7 separate regions of the Homo sapiens genome follow, and regions 1, 3, 4, 5, 6 and 7 are each reported to be linked to region 2. The links are microRNA targets in miRTarBase. Many come from high-throughput screens and were not tested one by one. Region 2 holds a microRNA gene; each other region holds the end of a gene's coding sequence.
The links. Region 2 holds the annotated microRNA hsa-miR-574-5p (UGAGUGUGUGUGUGUGAGUGUGU, at 1,329-1,351, shown strand). A microRNA usually pairs through its seed, bases 2 to 8, with sites in the 3' UTR of a target mRNA and lowers its output. Matches are read on the target gene's strand: a 7mer-m8 pairs with bases 2 to 8, a 7mer-A1 pairs with bases 2 to 7 and ends in A, and an 8mer does both.

Region 1 (3,130 bases), not on the chromosome of region 2:
CTCACTTCTCACCGGGCACGACCTCTAGCAAAGGCCAGTATTGCCTTGGCCTGTGGGGGTCCCCAAGGTTTCAGGGAGAGAGGAAAGGACCCTCAAGCTTCGTCAACAGCGACAGCCCAGGGCCTGGATGGGCTTCCAGTGGGGAGGGCCCTGTGGCAGGGGTAGGGATCATCACATCTCAGACCAAGGCCAGGACATGGCCAGAACCCCGGGATCAGAGGGACTGATCGGGGTCTGTCAGTGACAGGAAGCTGGGCTGCGACAGAGAGGGAGAGACAGCAAGAGACAGAGACAGAGACCGAGGGAGAGAGACAGGAGAGAGAGCAAGAAACAAAGAGGGACAGAGAGGGAGACGGCGCAAGAGAGAGACAAGAGGGAGAGATAGAGACAGGGATAGACAGAGACAGAGAGAGACCAAGGGAGACAGGGACACAGTGGGAGATGGGAAGAGGGAAACAGAGTGTCTCTGAGTGCCGGGCAGATGAGGGGAGGGTGGCCTCCCAGCCTTCAGGTCCAGAAAGCAGCTTCCAGTGGCCATGGCTAGTGAGCTGAAGTCCAGGGTCCCGGGGCACAGCTCCCCTCCCTGCAGCGGCTGTGCAGGACCTGAGGACCTGGGGGGCCCTCCCTGCCAGGCAGCCCCTCCTGCTTCCCTTCCTTTGGAAGGAGCGGTGCTGGGTCTGAGCCCCAGCCCATCTTCCTCACCGGGGCAGCAGGGCCAAGACCCACGATCCCTAGGCTGAGCCAGCGGCACCTCAGGGGGCACGGCCCTTGCCCACAGATGCCCAGGCCGGCCTGGTCTTCTCTGAATACCCCTAAGCCTGACTCTTGGGTTGTGAATGTCCGCGAGGTTGGGGGACCTGCTGGCCCTGTCCCCACACCGCTTTCAGCCTTTCATCACCCAACCAAAGACAGAAGCTCAAACGTGGGCACCAAAGTCTAGCGGACGCACCGAACTCCAGGCTCCAAGCACATCCACCCATGGTGGCTTTATTCAGTCACGTCCCCACGCCCACGGCTCCCTCCACCAGGCAGACAGAGGGGAGGCCACCCCACTGCAAAGGGTCCCAGCCAGTGGGCACCAACCTCAGGAAGACGTGGTCCCCACCTGGAGCTTCCCTCGGCTGCCCTGGCCCTTGAGCCCGTCCTGAGGATTTGTGCTTTGACTCTGACAGGGAGCAGCAGGAAGCTGCCAGCCCACTGCCTCCATGCGGGTCCTTGGAGGGCAGACGGTGGAGCGGCGCTTCCTCAGCTCCCGCGGTCAGGCCCCATCAGGGATGGTCACAGTCCAGCCACAGGGGCGACTCTGCCCATCAGTCCCCCTGGGGCAGCGACCAGATCCTGGCTGGGGCAGCACCGGGACAGGCCCTCTCTATGGGCCTAAGGTCAATGCAGGTGGGGGCTCGCTGGGCCCAGGCCAATGAACCCACCCGTAGGAGCCCTCACTGGGCAGCAGGGCCAGGAGGGCACCAGGGACTGGCCGCAGAGTCCACTCGGGGCAGGCGTCTGTGGCTTGGAACCTGCCCTCGCCAAGGCACTGGGGGGTTAAGGAGCAGATCCCTCAGACGGCCTTGGGCCAGAAGCTCCCTGGAGAGCTGGGCACCTCGAGGAGCGTCTGGGAGCCTCACCCTGTCCCAGTGGCTCCTGGCACCCCTGGGAGCGTCAGCACCACCCCAAAGCTGGGTGCCTGTGTCGCCACTAAACAGAAGGGAAACCGAGGCAGGGGGGCCGGCTGGCAGTGGAGCATTCTGGCAGCGCCGGGCGACCAAGTCCCGACTGGCAGCGGCTGGAGTTTGGTTTTCAGAAGCGAAGGCTGGCGTTGGCACACAGGGAAGGCTGCCCGATGACGTGCCTCGACTGTGTTACATTTACTGAAGGAGAGCGGCCTCCTGGGCATGCCACTCAGGCACGGTGAGGCTCTGTGGCACCACCAGCCGCATGGCAGGGCAGAGAGTGGCGCCGTCCTGCATGCCCCCCACAGCAGACCAGAGTCCCGTCCTCACGCTGCACAGTGGGTGATGTGAGTTTCAAAACTACGCCTCCAGACCGAGAAACCCTCCCAGCTGTCAGCAAGCCGTGGCGCCGAGCTGCCGGGCACCTGCTGGCTGCTCTCCAGTCTCAAGGAGCTGGGACAGCGGGCATGGGGAGGAGCTGGCCTCGAGCCCAAAGGTCGTAGGGAGCCAGGCAGGGCCCAGGAGCACCCGGCACTTCCCGAAGCCGGACTCTGTAGAGGACGAGCGTGGAGGGTCTTTCGGGTGGGGGCAGCCCCAGCTGTGTGCCCCGAGGCCCCGGGAAGTGGGGACGGGCCGAGGAGGGAGCCAGGAGCACGGCCTTCCTCCTGGGTGTCTCCAAGGCTGGGCTTCGCCGCCGAGCCTGGTTCACGTGGGGCCGAGGACCGCGTCTGCAGGCGGCTCCAGCAGGCAGCACGGGCTCTCGGCAGGGCCTCTGGAAAGGACAGGGAGGGCTGGCTTTAGCGACTCCACGGGACGGGGACGCTTGGGCTCTTCTAGGGAGATGGGAAGCTCTTGGGAGGCACCCGTCATCCCAAGCACATCTGTGTTCACCAGGCAGTCCCCACTGCCAGGACCCGACTCCAGGGAGCCCCCGTGGCCCCGCAGCACCTGCCCTAGACGTGCTCCATCTCCGGGTCCGGGTCGGGCTCCTCCTCCTCCTCCTCCTCGTCTTCCTCGTCGTCGTCCTCAGCGCAGGCCTTGTCCAGCGGCGCCTCCCCGTCACGGGCCAGCTCCTCCACGTGCGCCAGCATGTCGGCCATCAGCGCCTCCTCCAGCCGCTTCCGCACCTGCTGCACCAGCTCTTCCTGCTTCCTGGGGACACATGGACCTTGCGTTACACCAAGGTGAGCGGCCAGCAGGACATGGACACAGGATGAACGTGGGGACCTCAGCTGGGAGGGGAGGCCCGAGGGATCCACAGGCACCCCCCCAGGACCAGCCCTGGCCCGTGCCACCCCTCCCTTCACAATCCACGCAGAGAATGACCGGCTGCCGCTGGCCATCGCCAGCGTCCGCCACCCTCCCAGATGGCCCCCCTGCCACCTCTACTGGGACCAAGGGAGGGGCCTGACCCTTCAGTCCCCAGACTTGGCCCTGAGCCTCCCCGGGGCTCAGCTGTG
Region 2 (3,148 bases):
TATAAAAAAGCAAACAAAAAGCTGTTTATGCATACATGTATTTATATAAGCTTAGAAAAACTATGGTAGGATCCACACACTATAAAAAATGGTAGTGATATTGAAAGGGAGAGACTAGGGCTATTTTTTCTTTAACTTTGAATTTATAATTCTTCAAAAAGAAGAAGGGATGGAGTGAGAGAGGAGAAAATCTGCCTTAAACACATCGCTCAGAAAGAATCACTATTTTTAAATTGTATTTCCTCCGACTTTTATAGAAAATACAAAATTGTTTACAAAACTAGTTAATACTATAAACACTGCGCTTCCTCCGCATCTGAGTTCATATTAAGCCATATTTGAGGAAGGCCTTCATATGTGGCCTTCCCTCCATGTCAACGAATCCTCATTTTTAAGGGCTACAACATATTCGATGTCTGAAGTTACTGTAGCTTACTTCACCAATCTTACTGGGGGACATTGAGATTGTCTCCGGCTTCCCCCCGCAGAAACAACTACAACAAACATCCTTGTACATACATATTTGCCCATTTGACTGCCTACTTAGGACAAATTCACAAATGTGGAATTCCTAGGCCAAAGCTAATACATCGGAGTTTTAACCCACAGCTCCAAACTGGCCTTCTGGAAAGTGGGTTTTCGTTGTTTGTTTGGGGTTTGTTTGTTTTAAATCTATCACACTCCCACCGACAGGGCAAGGGAGTGCTGCTTAACGCAGAATCAGGAGATCAAACTTTAGCTGAATTTGAGCGACCTCTTCCCAGTGACACGGCGGGGGGTTTTCCAAGCCCTTTTAAGGAAAGGAAAGGGATCTGGCGAACCCCGAGACCCACCCGCCCTGGGCTGGAGAGGCGGCGCGCTCTGGCTTTCCGCGCTGGCACAGGGGTGGGACAAGCCAAGTTTCCAGGAGACTCGCCCAGCGCGGGCCCGGCCCTCGCAGCGTGGGGGTGGCCGGGCGTCCCCGCGGCGCTCCTCGTGGGGCGGGGCGCAGGCGGGGCGGGGCCCCCTCTCCAGCCGCCCGCCCTCCGGCCGCGTCCCCGCCGGCCCTGCAGACGTGGCGGGGCGGGACCCGCTGGGCACTCCCGCGCGTACTCGGCCGCCTGAGCGGTAAGAGCCCCGGGCACTCGGTCCCCATCCCCTTCCCCGGGGGGCGGGCGAGCGCGGGGGCGGCTGCCCGGGGGTGGTGGGAACACCATACCTTGGCGCCTCGTCCGGGACCCACGAATCCTGCCCTCTGCGTTAGTGAGAAGCAGTGGTCAGGGAGGACCCGGCTCTGGGGTGAGGGTCTGGGGCGGCGCGGCCGAGGGACCTGCGTGGGTGCGGGCGTGTGAGTGTGTGTGTGTGAGTGTGTGTCGCTCCGGGTCCACGCTCATGCACACACCCACACGCCCACACTCAGGGTCTGCCCCCTCGGCCTGCGTGAACCTCCGCGGAGCCTGCCTGGATCTCCCAAAGTATCCAGTCCTGGCACCAAGCAAGTCTGGAAAAGTGCCCCCAATGGCTCGGGGCCAAGTCAGAGGTGGGCTGCAGGGTCCCCCAGCCCGGGCACGAAGGGAGCAGGTCCCTGTAAGACAGAGGCCTCGTCCCAGGGTGCGCCTGCCCTCGGCCTTGGCACAGGGAGCTCAGGCCTTGACCTCCCCGCTCCCCTCGCCTTACTCCTCCCCCAACAGCCGACCCACGCCCTGCCTGCTCTTCCAGTCCAGCCAACACTCTAAGCAGGCACCGCCTCCACTCGCAGCCCCCGGGATGGGTCCCACTCCCTACCGCAGATCCCCAGGCCCCCTCCACCCAGTCGGCTAGCCCTCGCCTCTGCCATCCGGTGAGTATTTCCAGGCACCTCAGACCAGGCGCCTGAACGTCACTGCCTTTTCTTAAGTAGGAAGACATCTCTCTATGGGCTGTGAGAGCATTACCTATGCCCTACTGATCCCATCATTTCCCATCCTAAACATCTTGAAGGACACAGGCAGGTGGCTTCTTAAATCAGTGTGCTCTGAACTCCCTGTGACCTCAGCCAACCTGTGACAACTGAGAATGAGACAGGCTCTATCCTCAGAGCCTCTTTTTGCCCTCTCTGCAGCCTAGTGGCTCCTTCCCTACCCCACCCATAGGCCTGCGTCCCCGCCCTCCTTTCTTCCATCAAGCCTGAGCTTGGGAAAGAATCTGATAAACTTCTTACATTGTAACCTTTAAGTGAAGGAATGAGACGTTAGGGATGGATTTGAGGCACAAGTGAGACAGTGCAGAAGGAATTTGAGGGTTGGAGGGGGCTTTCTTGAATCTGAGCGATTCAGACCATAAAAGTAAACTTGTCTTTGTTTATTTGACCAGGCTTACATCAAACATGGTTTCTCTTTTATTAATATCAAACACAATGTATTTCAATTCAGTAAATATCTGAGGGACAGAAACCAACCTAGGTGCTGTTGGTCACAGTCTTGGAGGACAGAATGGCAGAAGTAAATACTCCATAAATACATGGAATAGAAATCTGTGCAAAGTGCCAAAAACATAGAAGAGGTAGCAGTTATTTCATTGGAAGCAGTGGGGCAGATTAAGGAAAAATTCAGAATGAAAGGTAACATTAGACACTGGGTGTCTAGAGGAATAGGAGTTTGCCAGGCAGCTGGAGGAAGGGCAGCACCGGGGCAGAGGAACCAGCGTAAGCAAAGGCAGGGAGATGTGAAGAGTTATGGGGAATGGAGAAAAGACTGGTGAGGCAGGAGTGGAGGATACTGAGAGTTGCAAGAGGTGGAGAGAGATTGGAGCTGGATTATGATGGGAAGTGTGAAGATATTTACACCTAATGGTTTTTGAACAGGAGAGCAAATAGGTCCAAAAATGCCTGGCAGCCTCACAGAGAATAGGCTGGAGCCTGGGTACGTAGACTTGTCAAGCTTTATACAAACTCATACAAACTGCTACAACCTGATTAAGAGCCTCTCATCCAGAGTTTTTATTCCTGGTCCTTCGCTGACTGGCACTGTTTTTGTTTTTTTTTTTTAACTGGGGGAGATGACCTCACACAGGATATCATGCTAACCAAATTTTTATGCTGCCAAGTCAGGCCATTTTTTTTAAAAAAATCCATCCACTGTCACTATTTCATAAAATGAAAGACATTTTAATACCAAGAAAAAGCACAAAG
Region 3 (3,000 bases), not on the chromosome of region 2:
CCTGCTTCCATTCAAAGCCTCTCTGGTAAAAACCAAGAAGAGGGTGCCCAGTCATTTAATATTCTAAACACAATCTAAGTCTGATTATAAAATCAGAGTTAGAAAGGGTAATAAAAGCGTATTGGTTCATTCCTATATCTATAGGAAAGGTGTCAAAACTTCACAAGTTTCCAGATATGAGGATTTAAGAACCTCCCTAGTAACTCAATAAATTATACTGTCAGAAGAAAAATCCCAAATATCCAACTTTGAGTCCTATTTGATTTTCACTAACATAGATAGTAACCATTGAGATGCCTGATAAGTTATTTAATAATCTTTCAACCTCTTCTTTTTATATCCTTTAAATGTGTGTGTGTGCACGTGTGTGTGTGTGTGTGTGTATGTGTGTGTGTAGATCATCAGAAAACTAAAGGTTTGCAGAGAGAAAATGTGAAAATAATTAAAACACAAGAAAAAATCTCACATCATCTTTGCAGGTTTTTTGAGGCAAAGAATGTTCTAAAATCTACTGGAAGCACTGATTTTTGTCACTATTGGTTCTTTTCTTAATCTTCCCCAAGTTTACAATTTTCAACATCAACAATAGCCACAATATCAACACATTTGTGTGATAATAATTTAATAAACATTCAAATATCATCAGTCCTTCGGGATTCACATGCACCTGGAAAACCAGTATGCTCCAAATCCCTTGGAACATTAACAACACGAAGGAGAAAAAAAATTAATTAATTTTATTAATCAAACTCTGATAGTTAATAGTTAAGAAGTTATTCTGCACGCCCAGTCAAATATGACTTAAGGAACTTTACAATGGATGGGAATAATGTATATTCTGAAAACGCTACTTAACCTGCTGGGCACATGAAAAGAAACTTTCTCAATATTCAAAGGAAATCCTCACCAATGAAATTATGCAATTACCACAGTTTATGTTACAAAATTACAGTTTAATCATAAATTAAATATCAAGTTATACATTACAAAATCTATGTCTAAGTTAATCAATAGGAGATATTGACTCCCCCCCAACCCCAACCGCCCCCATTAAACATCAATTGTCTCTTGGTTTAGTGTTATACTGAAACAAGGTATTTTCTCAGTTTTGCTATGGAAGAAAATCAAGTTGGTGATGTTTCTGTACATTTATAAAATGTGCACATACAAGATAATGGCCAGTTAAGAGGATAAAAGAAGGAAATAACAGACAACAGGAGAAAACTAATGTTTTCTATGAATAGTACTGTTTCTTTGCTTAGAAGAATATATTTTATTTCATATATGAGATTTTGATGGTTTTTGTTCTGTGTGTGTTATTGGTATTTCTTCTTGACTGCAAGAAGCAGTCATGTGCCTTATTTCTCCCTCTGCATTTTTCCTTAAAATTCTGTTTGATGTAGATTTATAATTACATTTCTTGAAAAGTTCCTTCCTGATATTCTTGTTGTTATTAGTGGTTTTCTTCAGTAAGTTGAGCTAGAATAACAAAAATCCCTTAGTCTTATAGATTTAGTATGTGGTTTTATCTACAGTTACATGTATTTGTTATTTTTACTGAACACCCTTTGGTAACAGCCTATTGAGCTGTCAAATCAACATTTAAATCTTCCTGAGTTTCTCTACAAAATAGTAGTTTACCGTCGATATTTTAAGTGACTCGTGCTTTGGATGCATCCACCTCCTTTTAATTTTCTAGGCTGTTACATACAAATTCCCAGAAGTAAAGACCCAAGTAATAATGGACTACAGGCTTAAAATGTCAGATACAGTTTTATTTCTGATGTACTTTACACTAAACTATTAAAGTAAAAAGGGGCCCTTTTTAACAAATAGTTGCTTAATTAGGGCAGTTATTGCACTTCTGTGTCTCGAACTCTACTAAAGAGTAGAGAAATAGGTTGTAGATCTAGATCTGTACAGTTTATACATATTCTTTATTGAAAATGTATATACAAATTTTATCAACAATATAGTATTGGAATAAGGTAGAAAACATGACAGCAGAGAGACACAAACAAGCAGTATTTACACTACCTACTGTGTATTTTGAAGGGAGACTCACTAACAACAACAAAAAAACTGAAAACCACAAACAAAAATCAAAAAGAAAGCCCCAAAAAAGGCTAGAGTACGTATACCTTTTAACATTATCTGAACAAAAGTTTAGGTAAACTAAAGGTAAACTTAGAAAATAAGATATTTCTAGGCTTTCCATTTGCTACATACTGGTTCCACACAATCAGCATGGAAACAAATCAGTAATATTGCACATGATGATAAAAACAACAAAAAATACTGTACATCAGAAATAGTACGCTCTGTCATGATAAGCCTTACTGTACAAGGGGATGCAAATTGTTAAATTCCTTTTCTTTTTAAATACACATTCTGAATTAAACAAATTGCAATTTTTTGGTTAACTATTGACTAAGGGTCTAGCTGTAGATTTATTCTGGTATCTGTTTCTATTTACATAGTTATTTACAAATCTGATAATCAGAATACTCATTGGAATTGTATCTTAAATTTTGACTATATACATCTTTTCTGAAAATTTGAAGTAACTATTTTAGCTTTACAAGGGATGTGTTTCCATAATGGGGGAATCACCTCTGGACGGTCTGGCCTGTTGGCGTGGAGCGAAGGTTGTCAAAGGAATGACTTTAATTGAATCATCACTGGGATGAAGTCTTTCAGACATGGTGTAAAACTGAGATGTTGCACTACCTTGCACTCCCTGATCAACAGAGCATAGTCCATTAGCACCTTGCACCCAACCTTGCTGCAAACTGACTGATGATTGGGCCTGACTACGATGGAGGGCAATAACCTGTGGCAGAGAAGAGCTGTGGCTGATTGCAGCAGCCTGTGCTAAAGGAGGGCTGTAGCAGAGGGCTGAGGCCTGTGCTGATGGTGGGCTGTGGTGAAGTGCAGTACCCTGCACTAGAGGAGGACTGTGGTGGAGAGCAGACACCTGTATCGGTGGTGGGCTGTGGC
Region 4 (3,148 bases), not on the chromosome of region 2:
GGGCAGATTGAAACAGTGAGAGTTAAGGGTACAGTAGAAAATTCTGCATGTTTGCAGTGACTAGAATCAGATAGTAGTGTGGTGGTTTTTTTTTTTAATCATTATGAAGAGTGGGAGCTTGCAGGTAAGGCTTCTGTGGTGGTTTGAAAAGCAGAAAGCAATAAATGAAACAAAGTGTTTGTGTAATATATTCCTGCCTTGTCTTCTTCACTCAGAGTTGAAATAGGTTTTGCAGTAAAGCTGGAAAAAAAAAAGAAAACAAATGTTCAAAACTGTGTGTGTTGGTGGGTGGAATTTCCTTTGCTTATAGTAGTTTCAGTAGTAACTATATGTTTTTTTTTCCTTTCTTTTTCACAGGCACAGAAAACTGAATCTGTAGATAACGAGGGAGAATGAATTGTCATGAAAAATTGGGGTTGATTTTATGTATCTCTTGGGACAACTTTTAAAAGCTATTTTTACCAAGTATTTTGTAAATGCTAATTTTTTAGGACTCTACTAGTTGGCATACGAAAATATATAAGGATGGACATTTTATCGTCTCATAGTCATGCTTTTTGGAAATTTACATCATCCTCAAGTAAAATAAATATCAGTTAAATATTGGAAGCTGTGTGTAAGATTGATTCAGCATTCCATGCACTTGCTTTAAAATTTAGTCCTGTGCATACTGTGGTGTTTTTACTGTGCATATTTGAATTTTTCATGCAGTTTTTCTAGAGCAATAATCAGTGGTGCTTTTGTACCTAGGTTTTATGTGATTTTAATGAAACATGGATAGTTGTGGCCACCTGCTGACTATTTGTGGTTTAAAATAAAAGGTTTACTTGTCTGCAGAATACCTGACTCTTAGTATCTTTACTGCATTTTGGGAGTGTTTCATTTTATTGTTGCAGAAGATATAAAGAATTTTGATAGACCTTGCCATAGCGGTATCTCCAATAAGTCAAATAAGATTGTTTCTTAATTTTCTGGCCTTTAACATTGTTACTATTTTAATAAAATCATCTATGAATGCTAATGTAGAAGAATTACATCTAATTCACTTTATACCAGAAGTGGCCAGCAATGATTACTGTATAATAAAACTTTATAAAGCACTAATTTTTAAAAATCCTTATAAATAGGATATAGTGCTGCTAAATCAAAGCTAGTAAAAAAAAAAAAAAAAAAAAAAAAAAAAAAAAAACATAAACTAAGGCTCAACTTTGAAAATCTCCCACTTTTGAAATGATAAATACTAAGTCACATTTGTACAAAATCCTTCGCATTCAGTTGAGAACTTCACAGCTTTGAAAGTGCTTTACCCAACATGAGCATGTTTCAGCCTTGCATCAGTTTGAGAATGGAGTTGGCATGGGTATTATTAGAGCTCCTTTCTAGGATAAGAAATAGGGATGTGGAGTGTATTTGACTTACTGGAAGGAGAAAATCCAGGCTGGAGTCTTGAATTTTAAACAGTGTCTTTATGTCTATGAAAGGACATAGCAGTGCCAGGAACAGAGGAGTTATTTTATACATATAATTTTTCGTTGTTGTTTGCAACCTGAGAAGTTTGGTAACTGCATAAGCACTCCAGGAAAGCTGAATTCTGGGCATTTGTCTTAAATGAAGACTTGAATCTTTTAAGATGGCAGGTGGTGCCTGTGCTGCTCAGGGACTCCTGCAAAGAAGCTGTTGTTCCTTTGGGCCTTAGATGCTTTTGTATTGTGCTTATGAACAAAAACAAAGTTCCTCCTCCAGATTATATTTTGGGCCTAAGAACTTAAACTTGCCTCATTGTCCCAAGTCTGTCATTAGTTGACTGCATATATCAACCATGTTATATACAGAATAATCTTGTTCATAGTTTACCTGGCTTCTGAGTATGAAACATACTTTAATTCATGAGTTTTGGACATGCTAAAAACTGCTTTACTGCAAAGAAAAATATCTAGTATCCAATGAACTCTTCACAAAAATATTTTCAGTATACAGTTAGTACTCAGTTGAAGTATATTGCTGGCTAGTTTCCATTCCAGAAGTGAATCATAAATTCCCTAGGTTTACTTTTTAAAAAATTATATAAGTGATCCCAGTGATTTTTTTTTAGAAGACCAAATACTACAATAATACATAAAGCAAAAAGTCAAAATCTTTTTTCCTCCCATTCCTACATCCCAGAGATAATCACTGCACACTATTTTCTCTATTTTCTCTTTCTCATGTGTGTGTATGTGTGTGTGTGTTAGGGTTATGTACACACACACATATATATGTATATATATAATTTTTAAAAGAGAATGAATCAGTATCCTATTTTGAATTTATTCAATCTGTAGTTGGAGAAATAGATCATTTCTAATATTACAGTGCTGTCAATGATACTGCAGTAAACATGCTTATATACAAAGTTTTTCTACCTATGTATTTCTTCTGCTCAACTAAATAACTTCCCAGAAGCAGAATGTCTGAATCAAAGGGAATATACATTTGACATTTTGACTGCCTCCAAAAAGGATGTACCAATTTCCCCTTCCATCACCAACATTTGAATACCATCTCTTTCCACCTTTGCCAGCACTCATTTTGGTCAGTCTAATAAATGAAAATATGCCTCACTTTTAATTTTAAATGTATTCTATTATTAGTAAAATTAAACTTTTTCTGTTTAATGGTCATTTGGATTTCTTCTGTGAATTCTGATTTTGTCTTTTTCTGTTGGGGAGTCAGTGTGTTTTAAATCATTGTTGCTCATAATAACCATTGATGCTATTACTATTAATAGCATCAATTATTACTATTATTGCTATCAGTAATAGCATCAAACACACAAAGATCAGGGGTTCTGTAGGCTATTGGTGTCTACTTAAGTACAATATATGGATATTATCGTGGCCACATTGAAAAACCGAGCAGGTATCATAGAGACCACAGCTACCCAAAATAACCCAGGATCCCTAAATTGGTCCCCCAGAACTTGAAGACTTGATGAATATACTGCCAAAGATAAGGACACACTACCTTCAACTACATGGAAGCTGTGGGACTCTCCATGCACTGCCCCACTGCTACCCCTTTGGTGAATTTATAGAAAATTAGAAAAAGGTTCTTCTTCTCTAAGACACTTGTCTGCTAATTTGCTGGAGAATCATAAAAGCCCTATGAA
Region 5 (3,148 bases), not on the chromosome of region 2:
CTAAGACTATATTATATGTACTTTCTAATAAATATATTGTGACTATTATCCCAGGTTATCAAAATTTTTAGTAATATTTTAACAGCAGATACAAGCTATGGCTATGCCATTATTTATTTAAGATGCCAATGTTAGACATTTAGGTTGTTTTATGATATTTTTTGCTTCTCCTTTCCCATTGATTATTTATTACCTCAGATAAAAGTTCAGTCAATCCTCATTACCCATTTCTAAAAGTAGACACAACTACATTTAGGAATATTGCTTCAAACATAGCATATATATCTGATGTTGATATATTGCTTTTTTCATGTTTTCTCTTACAGTTCTTATAGTCATGAAATACCGTACTTGATTTGATGACAGAGATCTTCATTAAACAAGATCTGGGACAGTAATAAAAGATTGCTGCATAATTTAAATGAAACCTATGTGTATATAACTTTCAAAACTTCTTTTTCAAGAAACTAAGAGGCAAGTATCACTTCAAATTGGAACGTTGAGAATGTCCAATTATCTTCTCCCTTTCTAACAAAATGTTCTTTTAATAATTATGTTTAAGGCAAAGAGAACTAGCCTCTATTTTTCCATATTTCAAGGATCTAATTTGAAACTAGATACTTGCCAGTTCATTATTTGTGTATATAAACACTGATTATAATATTTCATATTAATATTTTAATGGCATAAGGACTTGCATTATTGCATTAGGGAGCGGGTCATGCTGGGGGTCAGGAAGCCTGTGTAGAGTACCAAATTATATGCTGAAAGAGATGCATAACCATTCTGTCAATATTTGCAGAAATATAGTTCCTTTCATATTACAGTTGTTTTGCAAGCAATTTCCACATTTATAGGTGTAACAAAAGCTAAATGTTGTAAATGTTGTTGCCCTCAGGTATAACTAAAAACATTCCAGTAAATATATTTTTGACTGTGTAAGAGAATGTGTAGTAATTTTTTTGGCATTGGATTATGGAAATGGAAATTTTTAAACAGTGTGAAAAAACATGGTATGGCATCATAAAACTGGAGATAATAAAGTTATTGAAGAGTGTCATTGGAGTATTTGAAAATGACCAATATATAGCTGCCAGTCATGGTCCAGTCTGTTTTCTGTTAAACTCCAATAAAGAGAGACCAGTCAGTCCTAATGTGAGTAAATGAAATTTACAGGTAACTTACTTACTCCTTAATTTTATTTTAGTTAATAGCCTCTAACTTCCAACTATCTCATTTACCAAAAGTACAAAAAGTAGCAAAACCATCTATTAATACTTTGAATTTTATATCTTTGCATTTCCTGTTCATCCTTGAGGAGATGTATGTTGCACAATCAAATTTTGCATCAGCCAACAGTAATGAGTAGTAGAAAGTCAGGAACCTATGTGTATATATATATATATATATATATATATATATATATATATATATACACACAAACACACACACACACACACACACACACGCACACATATGATAATCAGTCAGTCGGTAACCAAATGCTAGAGAGTGACCATTAACCTAAGCCTGTTTTTATAATGAAAAAATGTGTTAACTTTAAAATATGCCAACCTCCTTGTGTCTTTTAAACAAGTCAGAGTGAAAATACATTGTCCCCTAAGGTGTGGGGAGAGGAAGCTTTATAATAAAATTAGTGATTCTGCAGAAACTTGTGCACTGGATATCTTGACAATATGAATATAAAACTCCCTAAATTAAAAATAGGGTTAATAGAAATTATCAGTATTTAAATAGGGAAAAATGATTTTATGTTTATTTTATTTAGGTTTTATTTCTTTGGTCATCTTAATGCAAAATGAATAAAGCATAGAATCTGGGTTTGGTGTTTTTTTGTCTGTTTTTAAAATTCTACAGGATTATTACTAGGAGGCAAAAAATGCTGTTTAGAATGGAAAAAATTTGAAGAGAGAAAGCAGACTGAGACACTCAAGACACCTGCAAGTTATCTAAGAAGATCTAAATAGAATTACTAAATTTTATAGTTTGCTTAGAGCATTTAGAAGGAGATAAAGGTCTTACATACTATAGTGTATATTGTCTTTGGTCTCTATGCTCTTTGTAAATGTCAATTAATATAAACAGCATCTGAACAGCTAATAAATCTTTTAAGTTAAGATACCCAGAAAAATGAGCATTTTTAGAATTTCAGTAGCTAATAATTCAGGAATGGAAATATTTTAACTGAATGGACAGAATCAGTCCTAACATTTGTATGTATGTCCTTTATTTGAATTGGAACTAGGCTCATAAGTGGTTAATTTTCCATTAGTTGATGTAGAAATCTGGTTTCTCCATAATATCTACAAGTGAAGATGAAGATTACTTCTCAAAAAGTATCCATATTTCCAGTGTTCCTTTTAATAAAATATGCCACTTTTAAATAAATAATTACAAAATGTAAAATTATAAAATTTTTAAATTTAAATAATAAGTAACAGTAAAATTTTTTGACAATATATATGTCACTGTCTTTGTAATTTAAACATATTGCTGCCTGGGATATGGGTAACAGAATTATCACTCATGGAACTTTGTAGTAGTGATGGCTTGGTTTGTAATTCATCATTTCATCTTTCTTGGTCTTGATTAATCCTGAAATCCTTAAAATGGCTGGCATGGTTATGACTTTATTGTGGTAACCTTGGAGATATAAGCCCTCTTACGATCAAAAACAGAAGAAAAAAATATATTGTTCAAACTGATGCCAGGCCTACCTTTATTCCCTCCCTTAATTACTTTTTTTCTCATTCAGCTCAGATCATCCTGCACTTGAAAAATGAAGTTTTACCACCATCAAAACTATCATTATTTAACAACAAGTGAAGATCAACAGAAAAATTCAAGTAGCTTTGCAAATACTAGTTGATACTCAGTGAAATCACGTCACTATTTTGATGCCTGAATCCATACCTTTGTGATTTATGTTTAATTACAGAAGCCTATTGCCTTGCAGCAATTTTGTTGTTATAATACTGATTAATTGGTTACTCCTTCTTATTATAACTCAGTAATACCTGTGGTCATTTGGTTCCTCTATCCTGACAAAGTTCACTGGAAATTGCCCTCAGATTTTATAAACTGGGGGATTTCTTAATTAGATAAAAGTTCATTACTGAAGATGGAA
Region 6 (3,000 bases), not on the chromosome of region 2:
GCAGGTTTTAACAAGGTAAATTCAGTTTTGAAACTTACATATTTTACATAGGATGGGACACAGAAAGCTAGGCTAAGGAAATGGATTCAAGACATTTGTATAACACATAGATGGGAAGAGGATTGAACAGAAAAAATACCTCTAGTACAAAACCTGAGGAACACTAATATTGAAAGAGCAGGCATAAGAAGAACCTGTAAAAAAAGATAATGTAGTCAGTATGCTAGGAAAAAACTAGGAGAAAACAGTAAAACAGAAACCACAGAAGGTGATTGAGAAATAGAATTAACTCACTCTTTTTAATGGCTGTGTAAGATGACATAGTATAGATGTACTACAATGTAATAGAACTAAAAACAAAACTAAGCATTAAAAGAAGTTAAATGTTAAGTGCTTTGGAAGACAAGGTTCTTCAGTTGTGAGAAGCGGATTCCATCAACCTTACAGGAATACTGTGGGGATTGAAGTGGATCCTATTCACATACTTCTTACACTATGAGGGCATTCAATACACGTCAAGTTTTCCTTTGTAAAATTAAGTCACTGGCACATGTGGCTAAGATTATGCTTTTACTCCTAGAACTCTTCCCAATCACTCTTGCAAATAACCAGTCATTGCATGTGTACTAGTTTTGTTGTGCCCCGTTATACTCATTGCCAATAAACGTGCCTTCCTCCCACAACCCCCACCCCCCACCCCGACTATACTCTTGGTACCAAATCCTTTGATTTATTGGTTGCACCAAAGTCACAGACTGGCAGAATAAATACTGGTGACATTTTATTTCTTGTCACCTCATTAACGTAGATCAGCTCAGGCTGATTAGTTCTCCTCTACACATTAGTTAGAATGGCTCTGTAACTTGGTGCTATACAGAGAGTAGAATGGTTTGTGATTGTTGCTTTCCTAAGGGGATTTAAAGTTTTTCATTTATTTTTTGTGTGTGCATGCACATGACACTCTCATACATTCTGCCCCATTTCTTTTTTCTTCCCTCAGAGCTAGCTCAAATAAAATAAACATCTTTAGCTCTTTCTTTAGAAAAAGAAGGGAAAATCACATGCCAATCCAAGTAGAGAAAGATACAGAAAACAGAAGCAGGTGGGAAAAGGCACTTTATAATTCATTAATTTATATTGGTATCTCTTAAAATTTTTCTTTTTATGAAAAAGAAGTGAAGAATGTTAGAAGGTCATAAACTAATAAGAGACCACATAGTTTAAAAGATTTGCCACTTTTTTTTTTTAGCTTTATTGACTATTACCAACTTTCAGTATGGTTCAAATAATTAAATACTGCAACTGGGACATTAAAAATACAAGCTAATTTACCAAAATAATTGTATTCTGAATATTATGTACAATATTATACATTTTACATTACATAATGGGTTTTTATACATAAAGGTAAGATTTCTGATTATTGGAAATACAAAGTACAACTGAACAAAACATTCCTATGCGTACATACACAATCACTCAACTGGAACAATCAAAACCATCTATGAGTGTGGTTATTAAAAAATAAAATTACGTTCATACAATGGTAGAAAATGAAATGTTTTTATTAATTTGATTATTAATACAAAACCACACATATATGAATTATATAACCTAGTGTTATATATTTAAAAATCTTTATGCTTGCAACTGAAATGTCTCTACTCCAAGGGAAGTTTCTGATTTTTAATTTTCTTATTTTAAGGAATCTATTATATTCACAATGATTAAAATGCCTTACACATAGGCAAAAAGCAGACCCAATCCCAGCAAACAGAAAAACCATAAGTCTATCATATCACCATATGTTTCACCATATAGTTTTGAAAAATAATCCTATTTGCAGTTTGGTATGTCTTCATATTTATACTTATTATCAAAGTGATTGCATATTGAGGCACAGAGCTTAAAGAGGAAATATATATTACTTATAGGGAACCAGACACTGAAACAAGAATATCAATCAATGGCTTCAAACAAAAAAAAAAAAAAAAAATTGAGAATGGGTGCTCGCATAGAAACACCACACGCAAACACTCATTAGTTTTTAACCAAGTCACTAGTCCTTCCAAAAGGTGAATATGTTGATGTGTCCATACCTTGTTTGAACACTGCAATACCTGATTAAGACCAGGATACTGCCACATGAGTTTTAATACTCTCTCATTTTTAAATTCAATTCCTCTTAAACAGAACAGCTATGATTTTAAAGCAATGACATTTTTCTAATTGATCTGAAAAGTCTGAAAAACAATGTCTTTACAACAAAAATGGATTTCCAATTGTATGTCACTTTGTACATAGATCTCACTCCAGAGATACATAGACTGGTGAAAATTCTATCAGAGCTATACATAAAGACATCAGAAGGGCAGCAATTAGTAAACAGGCCATTCTCTTTAAAGTCTGCATGGCATTTTGCAGTACTCTCTGTTCTTAAATCCTGTATTTTATCAAAGGCAAACAAAGAACACCTGGGAACTGGAAGCCAGAAAGGTAACACGCTGAAACATATACAAAATCAATGAGCTTTCCAACATCACATAATCTATTAAAAAAATTGGGACGTGGGGGCTCAGGTTTACTTTATTGTTTTTCTTCTTTTTCATGTTTAGCTTGAATATAAAAGAAGCTCTAGACCTACGTTATCAAAATATATTCATATAAATGTATGCGCATTTCTAATACAAAAGTTTTAAAAAAGTCTAAGTTCTTAATTTTTGTAATTAAATATCCTAGAGTTCAGTAGGCAGATTTATGTTTGAGCAGCTTGAAAAGAATCCGTTGGCTGAGCGTTGTCTAGAAATTGGGTGCCGCTACATTTCAGCTCTTCGATGTGATTTCTCAGCAACTGCAGCCCCGTCTTCTTCCTCCTCTTCTTCCTCCTCGTAGTGTTCCTCTCGGCCTTTGGGGCGGTTGTCATCTCGAACTTCTTGCTCTTCTCCATCATTATTTTTATCATCAGTCTTAAAATTAAAAGAAAAAAGAAAAACTAAGAGA
Region 7 (3,000 bases), not on the chromosome of region 2:
GAAGGCAATAAAATTGTAACGCTCAAAATAAGGCCAGACATAAGTAGCTAGAGAAATGAAATTTATTTGTTGAAATCAATTTGTGGGGTACTTTCATACATTTAAATTTACTCAGTTTTTAAATTGTGTGTGTGTGTGTGTGTGTGTTTTCTGTGAGGAGTGTTTCTCCTAGTGATGGGCATTCTTATTTTTTGTTTTAAATACAAATTTTGCTCTGGTACAAAAGTTGCAAAGCACACACTCCAGCAAATTAAGTAATTATTTGTGATTTAAGATAATGCAAATGAGTGGCCGAGAAACTGGGCTGTTATCATATATCAGACACTTATATATATATTTTTGTGGCCAAATCATGAATTTAAAAGAAAAATGAACTCCATGAAAAGACTTATTACTTGTTGATCATCTTTATGGTGATTCTGTAATATCCCAATTTTTGCATTATTTTTTCTAAAAAAAAATCCATAGCATATTTAAGAATTCACAAAATGGAGTCATAAACAGTGTAGTCACTGTAATTTCCTTCATTCTGATACCCTTATTCTCTTCTTCCACAAATAGCAAATTCTTCTTTGGGATGCATGCAGAGAGGAAAAGTATCTACCAAATGTGGATGTTAGGTAGCCATAAAAAATCAAGTAGCTAGCAATAATTTGGGAAATAAACAAATCATTTCAGCCTAAAAAAGGCTCAGAAGATGGCTTGAAAAGCAAAATACATCTAACTTATAACTTTAGGTTGCCAATTCTTCAGGCTGTGAATTAAACCAGGCCAATTTGCCCCTCTCAGTTCTCCTGCTTTGGGGCCACTTCTTGAAATAACTTTCAGAATAGTAAAAGGAGGTAAAACATTCATGAATTTCGAAAATAATTAGCAGCTAAAAGAAAATAAAACTGTTGGGAGAAGAAGTTTAAATAAATTCTAAGAAGTGATGGCTGCACTGATGATTTCAATGTCAAAGTAGTACGGCTTATATTTTTATGGAAAACTGAAAGCTCACTCTTGGTTTTAAAAACTGTATTCAAGAAAAGGAAGTAAACTGCTATGAAACTTATGCATAACAACTTTGGACAAGAACACTTCGTTCTCTGTTTTGATTTTTTAAAAACCCTCAAGGGTACACTGATGACTTGTAATATGTGATAATTGAAATCTTCTATTCACAATCCTTTAACTGTTTCTGTGGTGCAATGAGAAACTACTGTATTAGAATTTGCAATATAAGTTGATTTCAACCTTGAGAGATTTATAAAAATAAGTTTGTCTCATTATCCTGTAACACTAAAATGAGTGAAATGTGTCAACTCTTCTACTTCTGCGAAACAGGAGAAATTGTATTTAACCACATGTTAAACCCATCAAAGATATACTTTCCAAATAAAAATGAGTGGTATAAGACATAAAAGCCATATAGAAAGATTTTGTTACCATCATTTTCTGTTCCTTTATGTGATTATGAAAAGTAAAAATGAAAGCTAGTTTACATTTTATTTTTAACCCATTGGATTGTCTTCCATTTTATTTATTTATTTTTATCTTCTTTTTATTTATTTATTTATTTTATTTTATTATTATTTTTTTTTTTTGAGACAGAGTTTCACTCTTGTCACCCAGGCTAGAATGCAATGGCACAATCTCGGCTCACTGCAACCTCCGCCTCCCAGGTTCAAGTGATTCTCCTGTCTCAGCCGCCCAAGTAGCTGGGATTACAAGCACTTACCATCACGCCCAGCTAATTTTTGTATTTTTAGTAGAGATGGGGTTTCACCATGTTGGCCAGGCTAGTCTCAAACTCCTGACCAGCGGTGATCCACTCACCTCGGCCTCCCAAAGTGCTGGAATTACAGGCGTGAGCCACCGCGCCCAGCCTGTCTTTCATGTTAGATCATAATATGATCTCACCAGATCCTTACTGAAAATGTACCTTATTACAAGTAGCTAAATTTCCACATAGAGGAATAAAAAGATTGGAGAATCAGGTTATGACTTTTCTAGCACTTTACAGTGTGCTATAGTAATGATAAACCCGTTTTAAACTTCTTAATCTTATCATCAAGCAACACCAGGCTTCTAAATCTTTTTGTTTCATTTAAAATGGCTACTATATATGAGAATTTTTAAGGTATTATACTAAACCCTTTTTCAGGTCAAAAGGCATGTTATCTAGAAAATAATTTAACACTGTAATTGGATCTTCAAGATCAATTTGTTTTATATACTCTGCAGCAAAAATAACATTTCTAGTAGGAAGGAATTAATTATAAACCTAGCAGATTCTAGACATTCACATATTTGTGTAAACAATTTTAACATGGTTTATTACGTTTCCAGAAAGGTTAAGTCTTATATTCCATTTTCTGCTAATTCTTCTTTCATATATCATTTAATATAATAAATATATGTTATTAGGGTGCATATGTGCATATATTTTCACACATATATATGTCTTATATACATAAAACAGCACTTAATGGTCATGTTCTTTGCATGTTCAACTTCAGAGGAAAAAAATGAATTGCTGTTATGTATAACCAATGGCGATCTTCCCTTCTGTTTCACAGATGGCCATATCTGGATGTAAACAAAACATTGGAGCGAGTCATTCCAGGTGAATTGTACTTCAAGTTGTAGGTTGGTGTTCTCAAGAAGAATTGGGTGCTCCCTGGTAGTAAATACCTAAAAATGATGGTTAACAAATTAGATTTTTACAAGCAAATTATAACTAACTCACTAAAGGGTTATGTGGTTAGCAATTTACGTAGTCTATATGAGAAATGTTACTGTAACAAAAATGCAATTCATATAAAAAGATTTCCTCCTCCAGACTGTAGGAAAGGAGAGAAGAGCTAAATATAGATGCAATATATGATGTTAGCATCCCAAGACATCCCATAAAGAGCCACTGTACTCAAATACTGTGAAACTGTTTATGTGGCTAATGTTAATTTAGAATTCATTATCAGTCCTTGTAAGTAATATGTGGAGCCAGTCAAATATTTC

Region 1: the mRNA of MBD3 is a reported target of hsa-miR-574-5p. The part of its 3' UTR that is shown has no 7-base or 8-base seed match.
Region 3: miRTarBase lists PCDH11Y as a target of hsa-miR-574-5p. The part of its 3' UTR that is shown has no 7-base or 8-base seed match.
Region 4: the mRNA of HMGN3 is a reported target of hsa-miR-574-5p. The part of its 3' UTR that is shown has no 7-base or 8-base seed match.
Region 5: the mRNA of VAMP4 is a reported target of hsa-miR-574-5p. Seed matches in the 3' UTR shown: 7mer-A1 at 1,947-1,953.
Region 6: miRTarBase lists GOLIM4 as a target of hsa-miR-574-5p. Seed matches in the 3' UTR shown: 8mer at 1,506-1,513.
Region 7: miRTarBase lists TTLL7 as a target of hsa-miR-574-5p. The part of its 3' UTR that is shown has no 7-base or 8-base seed match.

The regions. Positions count from the first base shown.
Region 1 is chr19:1,575,717-1,578,846 of GRCh38, forward strand. It overlaps MBD3 (methyl-CpG binding domain protein 3), which reads right to left. Exons shown (of 7, transcript NM_001281453.2): 6 at 2,619-2,822; 7 at 1-2,442. The coding sequence ends at 2,624. Among named protein-coding and RNA genes, the nearest start is that of MEX3D, 9.0 kb to the left of the region's middle.
Region 2 is chr4:38,866,728-38,869,875 of GRCh38, forward strand. MIR574 (microRNA 574) reads left to right here and starts at 1,305; the gene lies at 1,305-1,400. FAM114A1 (family with sequence similarity 114 member A1) reads left to right here and starts at 1,079. Exons shown (of 15, transcript NM_138389.4): 1 at 1,079-1,107; 2 at 1,671-1,819. It also overlaps a transcript of TLR6 not described here. RefSeq lists silencers at 843-1,322, 1,373-1,422 and an enhancer at 1,630-2,213.
Region 3 is chrY:5,737,521-5,740,520 of GRCh38, reverse strand. PCDH11Y (protocadherin 11 Y-linked) reads right to left here. Exons shown (of 6, transcript NM_001395587.1): 6 at 1-3,000. The coding sequence ends at 2,579. Among named protein-coding and RNA genes, the nearest start is that of TTTY23B, 500 kb to the left of the region's middle.
Region 4 is chr6:79,198,936-79,202,083 of GRCh38, reverse strand. HMGN3 (high mobility group nucleosomal binding domain 3) reads left to right here. Exons shown (of 7, transcript NM_001201363.2): 6 at 1-21; 7 at 358-839. The coding sequence ends at 396. Among named protein-coding and RNA genes, the nearest start is that of HMGN3-AS1, 33 kb to the left of the region's middle.
Region 5 is chr1:171,701,713-171,704,860 of GRCh38, reverse strand. VAMP4 (vesicle associated membrane protein 4) reads left to right here. Exons shown (of 8, transcript NM_003762.5): 8 at 327-3,148. The coding sequence ends at 355. Among named protein-coding and RNA genes, the nearest start is that of VAMP4, 39 kb to the left of the region's middle.
Region 6 is chr3:168,007,453-168,010,452 of GRCh38, forward strand. GOLIM4 (golgi integral membrane protein 4) reads right to left here. Exons shown (of 16, transcript NM_014498.5): 16 at 1,237-2,966. The coding sequence ends at 2,817. Among named protein-coding and RNA genes, the nearest start is that of GOLIM4, 87 kb to the right of the region's middle.
Region 7 is chr1:83,867,407-83,870,406 of GRCh38, forward strand. TTLL7 (tubulin tyrosine ligase like 7) reads right to left here. Exons shown (of 21, transcript NM_024686.6): 21 at 1-2,676. The coding sequence ends at 2,556. Among named protein-coding and RNA genes, the nearest start is that of LINC01725, 7.9 kb to the left of the region's middle.